2 separate regions of the Homo sapiens genome follow, and region 2 is linked to region 1. Evidence: fine-mapped expression QTL. Tissue or cell type: whole blood. Region 1 holds a variant in brackets; the other region holds the start of a gene. All regions are shown on one strand. Distances are between the middles of the regions.

Region 1 (8,106 bases):
TTCACATTATATGGTTTGACATAAGGGTTTATAAGGTTGTTTGTCCAACTAATGAAAATGCGCTTAATAAAAAATTCTGACCTTGGGTAAGAATTCGCTTTTTACCGCATTGCCGCTTTCATGTACATACATGAGTGCATGCACCTATCAATGTGTTTTCTTCCCAACACTTATTAAATATAAAACAACCTGATTTTGTGCTCGTTTCTCGTTTTTCTTGAGGCCCTGAAGCTTCCAAGATAAATATAAGACTAAAATTTGCTTGTTCCTTCACACCTGATTTCTCCTAGAACCATAAATACCTCCTATGGGGAACTAAGAAATCATGAATACTGGGATTTTCTTATTGGATTTTTTACTTTTGTTTTGTGGGGATAACGAGACAGAAGTGAAAGGAAAACTGGTGCCGGTATTACTGTTGAAATTAATGTACAGTGAATGTTTTTAAAGTATTAATTTTAAAAAACCATGTTCTCTAGAAACAAGTTTTAAAAATCTATATGAAAGTTTTAAAATGTTCCAGCTAACTAATGGATAAGCATACCAGTAAAGCCAAAGTAAAGGTTAGTGCCTTTAAAACTAACCTGTGTTAGAGTTACATGAATCTGGCTCTAAAGTATCTATTTTGCATCCATTTATATATAGATCTTAAACAGAAATACTCTAGGTTGCCACACCACAGTTTTAAGAAGTTATGCTGCTGCTGTTACTCTCTTCTAGGATTCTGGTGGTAAAGTAGAGAAACTCGGACACTATATTAACCTTACTGAAACATGCTTTAAATCGTGTCTAAAATCTGATTTGAGCAAGTCACTGCCGAGCTTCTGAGTCTGCATTGACACTGCTACTGACTCACCTCTCCTTCCCTGGAATAAGGCTTCAGCTTCCCTATGCTGTGAAGACACCATTTGTAAGCACTTTGAACATAAGCACTGTGTGACAGCGCTGGATATCATGCTTGGGGGGGGGCCTCTCCCTGACTCCCATCCCCATAATAATGAGTTTTGTTTGGAATTGTAATAAGTAATGAACTGCATGGTTTAGAAAATTATAAATATTTGATCAGCTGTCCTCTCTGAAAAAAATTGCACCCCTTTTTCTTTTTTAAAATTTTGTTGCATCTTCGTAGTAATGTAATTGTATTTTATGCCTGCTTTTTTATAAAAAAATAAAATAAAATAAATGGAGACATAAGCATTTTCATACTTCTCCTGTGAAATAGTCCTGGAATACGGCAACCTTCTAAAGTTTACCCAAAACATTTGCTTTCTCTATAAGATGGGTATAAACAGTGGGATGAGGATAGTAAATAAGTCTTAGAACTAAGGCTGTAGACTTGTGTTTCTTCTGCCCTATGATTTAATTCATGGAGAAATACCAAATTTCAACCAGGAGCCTGTCTCTGATCTGATTTGGGTGTTTTAAGACGCACGCAAATAATAGAACAAACTCATTTGAATTGGTAAGGATAGGGAAAAGAGGCAGGATGTCTGTTTTGTCAGGAAATAGTGTGCTGATTGATTGATAGGTGATTTTCTAGAAAGTGTTTCTCTGGCAATCAGTGGAACCTTTTCTAGGGCACTTATTTGCTATGTGCTCTTGGGCAGGTTATTCACTCTGAGCCTCCGTGTTTTCATCTGTAAAATGGAGATATAGATTGTGTCTACTTTACAGGATCACTGGCAGATTAAGTAAGTATGATGTGTGTAGAATGTCTGAGATGGCTCGAGTGTTTGTTGCCTTACAAAGGGGGAAAAACAGAGACCCTGTCACCTAAGTATGCTCTTAAAGGAGTTGCTTTAAGCAGTGATAAAGTACTAATGTTATCTAAATATAACATTTGTTGGACTAAAAATCATATAATTTGTATTGATGCTAATGGTCAGATTATAACTGCAAATGAAAAAAGATTAACTTGCATGTTTAAAAATATGACATCTGTAATTTTAACAACTACAGAATGAATAATTTTGTCTTTAGATACCATGTTTCTCTTCCTGTTGGTCCCAAGCAGTAGTTCTAAAAGGATTAACCAGTTTGTTTAAAAACTATACCTTACATAAAATAGTCATATTAATGATTGACAGTTTTAAGACTCAGCAGAATTCAAAATATGAAAATTTATTTTGCATAGGAAACAATAATCTCTGGTAAACATCATTACTGCATCTAACAAAACAATGCCTTCAATTAAAGGGGGAAAGTGAGTTTTTAAACATTAGGGTTAATTTAGAAGAAAATACAGTATATAATAATCTCAACATCATGTTTAGGGTAAAAATGCTATAATGTGAAAAAAGTCCCTAAGAACTGGACAGAACCTACCTAACAACACCATTTACCGTGTATGTTTTCAATAGACAAAACATATTTTGTACCAAATTCCAACAGTGGTAATTCTATAGTTGTGGCCCTTTAAAAAATGGCAGCATTGTACTTGAATCAGAAAGCTTACTGGGATTTCCTCATCGAAAGTAGAGATTGCAGCTAATCCTAGTACCTTTTGTTAGTAATTACTTAAGGCACAGTGCAAAGTTGAAGGACTGTTTTGGTACAAACTCAAGCCAGCTACATGTATGCTTGCCTTGGTATCCTTGCTAGAGCACATGCGGGTATAATACCGTATTATACACAACAAGGCCACCCTGTTGTATCTGTGTTACAATTAAACATCAGTCCCAGAAAGTGAACCCTAGTCATTTATTATAGGTGCCCACCTCTGACTTGGAACAAAATGCCACTCCATTCATGTTCATTTTTGTCCTGGAGAGGATTTATTTCCTAAAAGATTCTGAAAGCCAACAAATCAATGTAGTTCTTCATAGAGAACTTAAGAGTAAGGCTCAAAATGGCCTCAAAATGGGCTTCTTGGATGACTTCCAACAGTGACTGGCCTCAACACTGCAGATGTCTGAGCACTACCATAACCTAACGAAGTGAGGAAGGAGGAGGCAAATTGGTATTTTTAAACAAGAATTTAAGTGGCTCTTTCTTTCAAGTCTAAAAAAACCTTTGGCTTTAAAGATTATAAACTGATTTACTAAATTTATAAAAGACCTTAATTTAGCAAAGAGCTTCTTTTTCCTTTGGTTCAGTTACTCAAAATCCACTGTGTGAAGGAATAATGTATCCATCATTCAGCCTTTATAGCGGTCTTCCGGTAGCGAAGTACTGTCACTGTTACCCATATATTTAAAGCCAGCATGATCACAAAACGTAGAAGAACTGAAATAAAAAAAAAAGTGTATTAAAAACTGTCTTTACAATACAGACCAAAACCACCTCCTGCTCAAAGTATAAGCCTAAATAAAGCTTCACCCCCAACCTCCGA[A/C]ATGAACAATTTTGGTTCCAGTTATTTCTGGGGAAATGATCTCCCTATCATGACAATTTTTGGCCCCTTGGCCCAACTTCATAAATAATAATTTATCATCTTAAGTGCTCAATTGACAGTAATGTGGCTCTGGCTAAGAAGGGTTATAACTTTTAACTTTTTTTTTTTTTTTTTGAGACAGTCTTGCCCTGTCACCCAGGCTGGGGTTCAGTGGCCTGTCTTGGCTCACTGCAACCTCCACCTTCTGGGTTCAAGTGATTCTCCCGCCTCAGCTCCCCAGGCACCTGGGATGACAGGTGCCCACCACCACGCCTGGCTATTTTTTGTATTTTTAGTAGAGACAGGGTTTCACCATGTTGCCCAGGCTGGTCTCAAACTCCTGACCTCAAGTAATCTGCCCACCTTGGCCTCCCAAAGTGCTGGGATTACAGGCGTGAGCCACTGTGCCCAGCCTAAGAAGGGTTATAACTTTTAAAAATCCCTTTACTCATCTGACGTCCTGAGGGTGCTGCTGTCTCAGAACGTTCCATATTAAGCAAGGGTGGTTTAACATACTCTGTTAAGATCATCCTGAAAAACTGGCCCACAGGACAAGGCATATTTTATATTCAAGTAACCATGAAAATGTGTCTCTTTGTGGAAAAATAAATAAATAAATATATATAACTTTAACAGTGACTTAACTTCTACTTTAAGGTACGGATACACTCCTGATAAATAGGTTTAATGAGATTTAAGATATCTTTGTGTTTGAAAAACACATGTAAGATTTTAGCTGAACTGTTTTTAAAAAGTTATTCCCTGGCCGGGCGCGGTGGCTCACGCCTGTAATCCCAGCACTTTGGGAGGCCGAGGCGGGCGGATCACGAGGTCAGGAGATCGAGACCATCCCGGCTAAAACGGTGAAACCCCGTCTCTACTAAAAATACAAAAAATTAGCCGGGCGTAGTGGCGGGCGCCTGTAGTCCCAGCTACTTGGGAGGCTGAGGCAGGAGAATGGCGTGAACCCGGGAGGCGGAGCTTGCAGTGAGCCGAGATCCCGCCACTGCACTCCAGCCTGGGCGACAGAGCGAGACTCCGTCTCAAAAAAAAAAAAAAAAAAAAAGTTATTCCCAGGCCGGGCGCGGTGGCACACGCCTGTAATCCCAGCACTTTGGGAGGCTGAGGTGGGCGGATCACCTGAGGTCAGGAGTTTGAGACCAGCCTGGCCAACATGGTGAAACCCCATCTCTACTAAAAATACAAAAATTAGTTGGGCATAGTAGCGCATGCCTGTAATCCCAGCTACTCTGGAGGCTGAGGCAGGAGAATTGCTTGAACCCGGGAGGCAGAGGTTGCAGTGAGCCAAGATCACACCACTGCACTCCAGCCTGGGCGACAGAGTGAGAATCCATCTCAAAACAAAACAACAACAAAAAAGTTATTCCTGGATATACTGATCACTTTCAAGAACAGCTGTCATAGATAAGAAATAAATCACAATTAGAACAATCTTGATCTTTTAATTTCTAATGTATAGGTTTTGCTGTTTACTTGTGGTTTGACTTTCCTTTCCATGCTGAGAATTCAAGTCCTGTGGAAAGACCCAAGCCTGTCTTCCTTCCCATTTCCCACTTGATCAAAGTTTATGCTTTGACCAGAACAATTTTAGTCCTATCATCAGAGCTGACAAAAAGTATTCGAGCAAAGGTATAACCTCCAGGAAGAGACTAACAAACATATCTCTGTTCTGAAGCACTATTTCTCAAATAATAATTAGCTCATTTAAAAGGTCTACATGCTGGGGACATTTTCTGATCTTCACAGGTGACACCATCTGTTCTAATCATTTTCCAAAGATGTATAATATATGCTTGATTTGGGAGTTGAAAACAGCCTAAGGAATTACTAAATTCTTTTGTGGTTAACCATAGTATTTCCTCCTCCATGACAGCTTTTTCTTTTAAAGAAACAGAACAAAAACATAGTCCATTGGTGACACCACTTCCCTGCTTCAAAGCCTCCAGAGCCTTCCTACTGTTTTGTAGGCAGTTCTTGTAGGCCCTGGATACTTGGGCCACTGCCAGTCTCGCATCCTTCCTCTCCTGAAACCCGCTTGTCACTGTCCCCCTGCTCTCCGCACTCTAGCCCTTTGTCCTTCGCTCATGACCTTCACAATGCTGCTCCTTGTTAAGAGTCTGGCCTCCGCCCACATCCTTTCCTCTGGCTAAACCTCTACTCATCCTTACGATCACTCTTCTTCAAATTAATCTGCCCAACTCCTGCAAACTAGGCCAGGTTCTCCTTAGATGCTCATCCTGCCCTACTCTTCCAAACCATGTCCCATTAGAATTCAATAGGGAATTGTGTGATTACCTCATGTCCAATTCCACTGCTTAAGTGGAAGTTCCATGGAGATAGGAATCTATTGTCTTGTGCATAGTCTATCCCCTGTACTATAAGAAGGAGAGGCTTAACAATAAAAATGGTGACCAATAAGACTAGGAATACATTGTTGCCATCTTCTAAATCTATAATCCAACAGAGCCAAGTCCATCCATTAAACCCTAAGACAGTTTACAAATGAAGGAGACACAAATAGCACAAAACTCAAAAAGGAAGTGAGAAGATATTTTGCTTACTTGTAAAATCATTGGTGGTCATTAAGGTTGTGATTATTCTTGCTGTAAAAGAAAACTTGCAGCAATAAGTAACTTGCCTCTCGGACATTTTGGGGCTTAGCTAATAATGTCTTTCCCTTTTAATATCCCAATATATATTAACCATTATTTTTAAATTATTTTTATTCTTTTTTTAACAACATATATTAACTATTCTTGACAGAGTTTGGTAGTACAGAAAACCAAATAGTGCTGTATTTCATAATTACATAAAAACTAGCCATGCCGGATCACCTGAGGTCAGGAGTTCGAGACCAGCCTGGCCAACATGGCAAAACCCTGTCTGTCTCTACTGAAAATACAAAAATTAGCCAGGTGTAGTGGCGGGCGCCTGTAATCCCAGCTACTCAGGAGGCTGCGGCAAGATAATCGCTTGAACCTGGGAGGCAAAGGTTGCAGTGAGCTGAGATTGCGCCAATTGACTCCAGCCTGGGTGACAGAGCCAGACTCCGTCTCAAAAACAAAACAAAACAAAACAAAAAACAGCCATGCATCCTACCCCAATGGCCCAATGGTTTTGAAACTGCTCATGAGGGAAGGTACCTAGAAGGTACTCGAGCGCTGCCTGCGGAAGGCCGGAGAGACTGAGCTCCCTTCCACTGTCTCTGTGCTAACCTGCAACCCCCAACCCTCCAAAAGCAACTCTCATTTACAAATTGAGCATCTGGGTAGTTTTATTTAAAGAAAGGCTCCCACTAATTAAAAACAATGTTTTGGCCAGGCACAGTGGCTCACGCCTGTAATCCCAGCATTTCGGGAGGCTGAGGCGGGTGGATCATGAGGTCAGAAGTTCGAGACCAGCCTGACCAACATGGTGAGACCCTGTCTCTATTAAAAATACAAAAATTAGCTGGGTGTGGTGGCGGGCACCTGTAATAATCCCAGCTACTTGGGAGGCTGAGGCAGGAGAATCGCTTGAAACCGGAAGGCTGAGGTTGCAGTGAGCCGAGATCATGCCACTACACTCCAGCCTAAGCGAAAGAGCGAAACTCTGTCTCAAAAAACAAACAATAAATGTTTTCGAATCACTGGTTTCTATCCTTGCATTTTATAGATAAACAGACTGAGGCCCAGAAAAGGGGAAGATTTTTCCAAGGGTCTAACTAGAACTATTTTGTTTAGTTTATTTGTGTGCCATAGCCCTTTACTTAGTAAACATTTAGGAAATTGGAGTAACAGTTTAAACCGACACACAAGAGCAGGGAGTGGCGTGACTTGGGAGTTAGAGAAGACCACTGCCTGCAGCTCAAGGCATGCCTTTCCTAGCCCAAAACCAGCCTGTCAAAACTCTCTGCTAACACATTCTGCATTTAGCACATATTGACATAGAAGTTTTTTGGTCTACCTTCCAACTAAACTGCAAGCCCCTGAAGGGCAGAGGCCAAATCCTATAAAATGTTTTGTTGACACATTTGATAAACCAAGACTTTACACACAGACACCACATAAATAGTTGTTGATTAAATCATCATTTAAATAAAAGAATTCAATCATATAAGTAGACAGAAGACTTCAGTTAGGAAGGCGGCCAACAAAGGACTCTCAGACAAACTTTTTAAAAGGCTGTTAATAACCACACATCTGACAAGGGTTAATGACCAGAATATGTAAGAAACTCAAATGACCCAATTAAAAAATGGGCAAACCATGTGAACAGACATTTCTCCAAAGAAAACATACAGGGCCAGGTGCAGTGGCTCACACCTGTAATCCCAATACTTTGGGAGGCTGAGGTGAGATGAACACTTGAGCCCAGTAGTTTGAGACCAGCCTTGGCAACATAGTGAGACCCCTCTCTACAAAAAATTGGCTGGGCGCGGTGGCTCATGCCTGTAATCCTAGCACTTTGGGAGGCCAAGGCGGGTGGATCACTTGAGGTCAGGAGTTCAAAACCAGCCTGGCCAACATGGTGAAAACTCGTCTCTACTAAAAATACAAAAATTAGCCAGGCATGGTGGCGTGTGCCTGTAATCCCAGCTACTCAGGAAGCTGAGGCAGGAGAATCGCTTGAACCTTGGAGGCAGAGGTTGCAGTGAGCCGAGATTGCACCACTGCACTCCAGCCTGGGTGACAGAGCGAGACTGTGTCTCAAAATAATAATAATAATAATTAAAA
Region 2 (8,106 bases), 170 kb before region 1:
GGCAGTTTCTTCTACTCACGCTGAGAATGTAAACGGGTAGCGTCTTTTTAAAGGCCAGGTTGAGGCCCGGCTCTGTGACTCACCCCTGTAATCCCAGCACTTTGGGAGGCTGAGGTGAGTGGATCGCTTGAGCTCAGGACTTAGAGAACAGCCTGGGCAACAAGGCAAAATCCTGTCTCTACAAAAAATACAAAAATTAGCCAGGCATGGTGTTGTGTGCTTGCAGTTCCAGCTACTCAGGAGGCTGAAGTGGGAGGACTGCTGGAGCCCTAGAGGTGGAGGTTGCAGTGAGCCAAGATCTCTCGTGCCACTGCACTCCAGCCTGAAGGACAGAATGTAAACCTGCCTCCAATAAATAAATAAATAACAGGTTGGCAGCATCTGTATTTACAGTATGCCTACCCTTTGTTATGACAATTCCACTTTTAGGAATCTATACTATTCAAATATGAGGATACGAGGATGTCAATGGATCATTTTAACAGTGAGAAAATATTAATAATATCTAGCATTGATTGAGGGCCAGCACATTTCTAAGCACTTTATAACAAATATTGTGAGGACCCCGAGACACAGAGGAGTTAGGTAACTTGCTCAGGGTCACATGGCAAGTGTGTGTTTGGGGCAGGATTTTGGCAATTGTTTCTTAACCACTATGCTCTCGAATAGAGAATAATTACAGTGTGGCACATCCAAACTGGGGAGTAGAGGACAGCAGGTAAGCGGAATGAAGCAGATCTCTGCCTATAGACATGGACACGCCTCTAGGACATATTAGTAATGAAGGGAAAAAACCAAGTTGCCAAACACCATGATATGGTATAATTTCATGTCTGTGGGGAAAAGGTAACATGTATCTATAATACATATGTATGAGAATGGCCAAAGGCCTTGAGTGATATAAGAATGTATGTGGAAATATAGTCAGAACAGTAAATTTTAGATTATGTTCCATATATTTCTGGTTCGTTTGAACTTTTACAAGAATGCATTTGTGCATTACTTTTGAAAACAAGAATTGTTGTACTAACCTCCTCCTTACCCTTACCCCATCCTGCAAAAAGGTTTAACTCATATCAACAGATTCATTTTCTCTTCTTCCAGGTAGACAATGGGATAGGTCTTGGGTAAAAATCTTCTGTACCATGGCTTTTTCTGGTCTATATAAATAAGTATATGTAGAACATGCCCAGGATATATATCTTGTTGATCACTACTCTTAAAATAAGGTTTTCATGTTCGGTATTTGGACCATGGCTTCCTGTTATTCCACCAAGCTACATACAAATATACAACCAGTCAAAATTAATTTGGAAACTGAGAACCACAGTGTTTTTTTTTTTTTTTTTTTGAGACAATCTCACTCTGTTGCCCAGGCTGGAGTGCAGCGGTGTGATCACAGCTCACTGCAGCCTTGGCCTCCTGGGCTCAATGGAGGAGGCCTCCAACTCAGCCTCAGGGGGAGCTGGGACTACAGGCACAGGCCACCACGCCCCGCTAGACAGAGTGCTCCTTTTGCCTTGCATATTATTTTGTCATCAGAAAAATAATCCATAATCATAGATTATCTCATTATTTTGCTCCAATGCATAAGTGGGAGTGTCTAGCTCCCTCTGTTCTCCTGGTGGCCTCTGTGGAGGTCTGAATGAGTAGCTCAATACACAGACTTAAAGGACTCTCTGGATGTGAAGTCAGTGTTACTATCTGAAAGGGAAAAGCTGCATTGGATGGATCATCGGGGCCTCTTCCTGCATGAGTCCAGCTAGGGGTGGTTTTAACTAACCTAAAACCAAAGAAGAGGCTCCAACTAATCCAATGGTTTGGATCAAAATGCAACTTTTACAGGGCTGGGGCTTCACCCTATCTTCGGGTTTATCTCTGACATGCCAGGGAGACAGTTCTTAACATTCTTATTACTTAATGGATATCAGATTGTTGCTTTTCGGAGTGGTTTTTCCATTTTTTGAAATTTAATTTGTTCTTAAGTATCTTTACAGAAAAAAATCCCATTTATTTAAGAAGTACTGTATTCTCTGGTTCTTATAGCTGCTCATTTTACATAGTTTTAGTGTGTACAAACGATTTTTTTTGTTTCATTTATTTCTAATATACCTTCTCATGTACTTGCCAAAATTTCATGTTTGACACAGTCTGCATACCTGCCAGGATTCTTGCTGTTAATGTGAAGGCGCCTGTTTGGGTTACTCAATTGTTGGACAACTGGGCCCATTCCCAGGTTTTGGTCATCACGAACATTGTGAATAGCCCTGCTGTTAACATCTTTCTGCAAGTTCTCCCCCTTCTTCGCCCTTTGGATCATTTCCTTGGAAATGTACTTCCTTAAATGGGTTTACTGGGTCAAAGGGGCTCTATGAACGGTTTTATAGCTCTTGGCACATAATTTTCGGATTGCGCCCTGGGCGGATCTAAGCGATGGCACCGGCCGCCGAGAGGGCAGGAATGCGGCGGAACGGTCCCGATAACCACCCCTCTTCCGCCCCCCAAAAGGAGAAGACCCCGCGAAGGCCTGCGGCTGGAAAGCCTTTTTCCGGTGCTCTCCCGTTCTCTTGAAGTGGTTAGTGTCTAAGCCGGGCAGAAACGCTTTCAGGATCCCAGGCCCTCCTGCCCCAGGACTAGGATTCCACCCGCCTCCGCTAATTCGGAATCCCAGACACCCAGGGCCCCCTCTCAGGCTCGCCTCGAAACCCCCGGCCCTGCGGCCCCTCGCGGGCGCCGAGCTCGGTCGCTATTATTTGGGCGCGGGTGAGGCGAGGCCCGCATAGCTGCGCGCTGAGTCAGCGGGGGCCGCGGCGGGGGGCGCGGCCGGGCTCCCCCCCAGCGCACGGTGCGCTGGGCCCGGCGTCTGGGGTTCCGCCTCGGGGCCGCGGGGTAGTCCGCGGGGTCCGGCGGGAGGGGCAGGGGGCGCGCGGAAGGACCCGGCCTGGGTGCGTCTCCCCTCCCCCAGCAGGAGCTCGGCCGTGACCGCGCGCCCGGCTATTCGCCTCAGAGAACCTCGCCAGGGGGAGGAGGCGAGGGCGGGCGAGGAAGGGGCGCAGAGGAGAAAGCGGAGCGGGACAGACGCAGGAAGGGAAAGAAAGGGAGGAAGCGCGGTGCGCGGGGCGGGGCGGGGCGGAGCGCGCGCAGGGCCGGCGGGGACGCGCGCCGGCGGCTGCGGGCGGAGGGGCTTGTGGGTAGCGGCGGCGCGCGGCCGGAGACGGGCGGCCGCGCGGGAGTGTGTGCGCCGGGAGCTGGCTGAGGGACTGCAAGGCGGCCGGCGGCGACCATGGCAGCGGGCCGGCGGCGGCCGTAGTGGCCCAGGCCTGGGCTTCAGCCTCCCGGGGCCCCAGAGGGCGGGGCGGTCCGGGCCGCGGCGGTGGCGGCGCCACTTCCCTGCTCCCGCCCGAGGACTCCTGCGGGCACTCGCTGAGGACCAGCGGACCGGCGGCGCGAATCTGACTGAGGGGCGGGGACGCCGTCTGTTCCCCGCCGCTCCCGGCAGGGCCGGGCCGGGCTGGGCCGGGCTGGGCCGGGCGGGCCCCTGGGAGCAGCCCCCAGGCGGGGGACCGCCTTGGAGACCCGAAGCCGGAGCTAGAGGCAGGCGGTGGGCCCGGGTGGAGTCCCGGCCGGAGCTGGTGGTTCGGGGGCGGTGCTAGGCCCCGAGGCTGCGGGACCTGAGCGCGAGGAGCCTGAGTGCGGGTCCAGCGGTGGCGGCATGAGCCGGCCCCCGCCGACGGGGAAAATGCCCGGCGCCCCCGAGACCGCGCCGGGGGACGGGGCAGGCGCGAGCCGCCAGAGGAAGCTGGAGGCGCTGATCCGAGACCCTCGCTCCCCCATCAACGTGGAGAGCTTGCTGGTAGGTGGCCGGGGCCTGGGAGCTTGCTCGTTGCAGCTCACACCTCAGATCCCCTCTCCGCCCAGCCCTCCGTGCCCGTCCGCCCGTGGGGAGGGGGAGGTCTTGCCCCACCCCGCCCTGCTTCCGGCAGCCGGGGCCGGAGACCAAACGATTCTGTCACCGAGTTCCAAGAGTAGTGACCCGCCTTTGATTCCTCCCTCTACCTCCTGCTGGAGCCAGTGTCATCCCCGGCTGCTCCTTTCTTGCAGCACTGGGAGGAAAACACCCCTCTTCTCCTTCCGCCTGCCCACTCTGGGGAGGTGGGTGGAGGACTGGCCATGCTTCATACACCAGGTTAGCTGATTTGAAAGTGTCATGCTACGTGGGGACTTGGTGCGAGCGAGGGAGAAAGAAACCTGATGCTGTCCCTGTTGCGAGTACTCACTGGGGTACATGACAAAGAGCCGCCCTCACTCTCTCCTTTTAGTCTGAAATCTTGGAACACACAGCTAAAGTTTTGCTGTTTTCACTTGCGTTTGAGCATTCCATACTTGCTATTTAGTGCATTTTAATTGCTGTAAATTTAATTCCCTGAGATTATTGCGCCAGAGCCAAAAAATCAGTCTGAATTGTGGAGTGGAATAAATCTGTCCTCTTCATTGCGTCTCTTTCCTATAACGACCTTTGAAATCCAGATTAATAGCACCGTAAAGGCTGCTAATTGGCTCTTGGTTAAGAAAGGAGCATGTTTTACAAAATAGAAATGCACCGTAGAATGCTGGCTTATTTCTTATTTTTGTTAGGATAGATGATTGTATTTCGCAATTTGAGTAGTGTGCAGTGTAGATGCATTTATGGGAAAAGGGGGTGTGGACTTTTACCCTGGGGAGGGGAAGAAAGGTGAAAACGATACTCTGTGTATTAAATTGACTCTGGAAGACTAGAACTAGGGTGGGAGGTCCTTAGATCCGTTAGACATTCTGTGCTGGAATGCAGATGTTTAGTTCTATTCCCTCCTGGAATAAACCTTACTGTATGATGAGAAAAACTGCCTCCTCCCTTTCCAGGGACGGACGGACTGGCTTTTGGTCAGAGGCGGTTGGTTATCCTTTGAGGTTTCAGGCATCGTTTGCAGAGTGACTCAGTCCTGTTTGGTCAAAATGCAGGAACTGACTTTAGCTATATAGTGTCTTTCTGCACAGTGTACAGAAAGTAATGAATGATGTGCTATATTGTGTCACATGTGTTTGATGTTTTACTGTTTTTCGGGTTAATGTGTTGTTCCTATGTTTTAATGGGAGCAGTCTTTGAAAGTCTTTAATCGGGAGTAAGATTGCTTGCATGGATGGCATAGCTTTTCCTAGGCTAAAGCGGAGACTCTGGGCTGCACTCCCAGCATTTTCACTTTGGTATTTTGCTAGCAAAACTTTGACCTAAGGCCAGAAAGTTTAGTTAAAAATAGTACAGCAAATCTCAAGTATTCATCAGGTTCATGCTAAATCCTAGATGGAAACGTTTTGCAATTCACTTTGATATCTTAGATCTTTAATGATATTAATCATAATTATTAGAGTTATTCTGAGCTTGAATGTAAGTAGCTTATACATGTAATATGATCATGCATTTTGTTTTATTGCTTTCCAAATTATTAAAATGGAGGCTATTTTTAAAAGTGAAACATCTCACATGTTCAGGACACAGTTCATTCATTTAGCAGTTATTACAGCCAAAACACACTTTTATTAAGGTGGCACATTACGGATCTGAGAATTGACATCAGGTGCTGATGACTTGACAGACTCTGTTATTGCTGTTTCTAGTTGGTTAAATATGCTTGAGGTGCAGTAAACCTTTCCAAGCCAAAATGCGTCCCTTATTCCTTTGGAGCAAGGTTCCTGGTGTTTCTGTTACAAATTGATAAACGAAATTTAAAAATTTTTTTATAATAAATTAATTTTAAATTACGCGTATTTTATTTATGAACTACTAGAATGGATTTTTTATTGTGGTAGCGTATACAGAATTTACCATTTTTAACCATTTTTAAGTGTACAGGTTAGTGGCAGGCATTAAATACATTCACATTGTTGTGCAGCCATCACCACTATCCGTCTCTGGAATCTTTTCATTTTTCCAAACTGAAACTGTAAATTAATGTTTAAAAGAATGTTATAAAAATTATATTTCCTGAAATACTGACGAAATAATGGCTGGTATCACTTTAAAGATCTGAAACCTTAGCATTTAGGTTGCATTTCACTATTGGTCATTGTTTTACTGCCTATGACATTTATTTTTTGGTTTTGCCATGGGAAATACATATTTTGTCTTTAACAGAAAATTTAAAGGAATATAATTTAAAGCAAACACAGCTGCGACACTACATTCAGGAGCTCAGAAAGTACCATTAAAAATAGTATATACCTAAGATGACAAAAGAAGATGAAGTACACCAGAAATGATTGTATGATGCTTTCAGTGGGCTAGGCCTAGAAGGTAAAACTCTGTAGGAAACAAAGTTTTATGAGATAACGTGTAAAGTGCTTAGCCTAGTGCTTGGTACATCACAGTGCTCATTAAATTTAGTTCACTTCTCCTGTGCACACTTAGCATGTTATTAGTTAACTGCTTTAAATTTTCTTTTCAAAGGAAAATGGTTTTATTTGCAACTATTTCTTGCTACATAATTTTGAGTGAGTAGCATTATCATTTGAATTTGTCATCAGAAAAGTGCTAGCAATCATTAGGCATAGGTAGAGCTGGATTCCAAGACTAAATCAGTGTAAAGATGACATCTTGTTTCTCTGCAAAGGCTCATGGCTTTATGTGGGTCCTTAAATTAATCTGAGAAGAGTATATCTCTTTTATGGTTGCAGATTGTGAGCCGCTTAGTATTACTTAGAGTTTTGCTTCTCTACTGCCTCTTTTTTTTTTTGGAGGCGAGTCTTCAGTAATATGCTTTTGTAGTGTTTGAAACCTTTGGGTAAATACCTATGCTTTGTTGTCAAGACCAGCTTCTCATACTGCTTACCTATTATGGTAAAAAGAACTGTGTTTCAGGCTTTGCTGAAGAGATATTTTTCTAAAGGTCTGTGCTTTTTGAGTGTTGATTTATTTTACTCTTTCAAAGAGTAAACAGTCACAATAACCTGTAGGACTCACGCTTGGGTAAACTCTTACTTAAGACTTGTGTGGATGGGCAAAGGTGATTAAAACTTTGTTTACAATTTTCAGTGGCATAAAACATAAAATAATTTGATTGATTTCATTATACTTGTAAACTATCTGACAATATTATCTCAGTGCTTAGACTCTTTCAGCATGCTGCTGGTTATTTGCCTAGTTAAAATAAAATTGTATGTGTATTTTTCCCATCATGTAATAAGTAAGAACATTATAAAGATACAATAAAAATGAAATAGAATAAAAATTAAAAATCATTTTATACATTTTTTTCTTTATGAAGAGTTTGGCATTTATAGTGTAAAATTTGTGACTAGTTTACTTTAAAACTTTCATGTTGATAGGAGATATTTAAAGAAAATGAGTTAGCTAGGGAGGTTTTAAAAAAAAGGTGATGTGTGGAACTTACTGTTGATGTGAAGCAAGTGCAGGTCCGCAATCCCTTATCCACAATTTTGATATATAAAAAACCCAGTTTTTGGTAAAATGTATTTGATGATAACATCTGACCTAATCTCACATTAGAATACTTGTGGTCTAGTCATTCCTCTTGATGTAAATAATAATGCCTTTTGCTGGAGGAATATGAATGTATTTGATTTCAGGGTGTTGCCCAGATTTTCAAGAGCATTTTTGGGAGTACACAGTATATGTACTGTGTACCTTTCTAAAATCCAAGAAATTCTGAGTTCGGAAACATTTTGGTCCCAGGGTAAGGCCAATGTAGACTAAGTAAGGAAATACGGACTTACATACACTTCAGTAGCTGTAAATAAATAGTGGATAATTATCTTGAAACCTAACTTTTTTGTTTTTTATTTCCCAAGTCTTGATCAGATAGCCCTCTTTTTCCCATTTTGAATTCTAAAAATATAGTATGCAAATATAAGTTACGAAGCGTAAAAACATATTCATGAAATCACCACACAAGTTAATAAGTGGAACACTAGCCTGTAGAAGTTACCTGTGTGCCGTCGCCGCTGCTGGATTCAGTCTTCCTGCATCCTCTCTCATCTGCTACCCTGAACATTTTATTGTTCCTTTGCTTCATTTCATAGATTACTACATTTGTGTGTATCTCTAAACAATAT

What was found. PIP is the estimated chance that this variant, and not a neighbour inherited with it, causes the effect.
Region 2: ROCK2 starts here. The variant in region 1 is fine-mapped to the expression of ROCK2 in whole blood (TOPMed, PIP above 0.99).

What each region holds. Positions count from the first base shown.
Region 1 is chr2:11,172,856-11,180,961 of GRCh38, reverse strand. SLC66A3 (solute carrier family 66 member 3) reads right to left here. Exons shown (of 7, transcript NM_152391.5): 6 at 5,953-5,994; 7 at 2,106-3,225. The coding sequence ends at 3,134. It overlaps ROCK2 (Rho associated coiled-coil containing protein kinase 2), which reads left to right. Exons shown (of 33, transcript NM_004850.5): 33 at 1-1,203. Among named protein-coding and RNA genes, the nearest start is that of SLC66A3, 21 kb to the right of the region's middle. The variant A/C (reference allele first, on the strand shown) is at 3,332.
Region 2 is chr2:11,339,743-11,347,848 of GRCh38, reverse strand. It overlaps ROCK2 (Rho associated coiled-coil containing protein kinase 2), which reads left to right and starts at 3,213. Exons shown (of 33, transcript NM_004850.5): 1 at 3,213-3,853. The coding sequence starts at 3,713. LOC124907733 (a long non-coding RNA gene) reads right to left here and starts at 2,337. Exons shown (of 2, transcript XR_007086216.1): 1 at 2,160-2,337. RefSeq lists silencers at 2,729-2,888, 2,959-3,028, 3,169-3,898.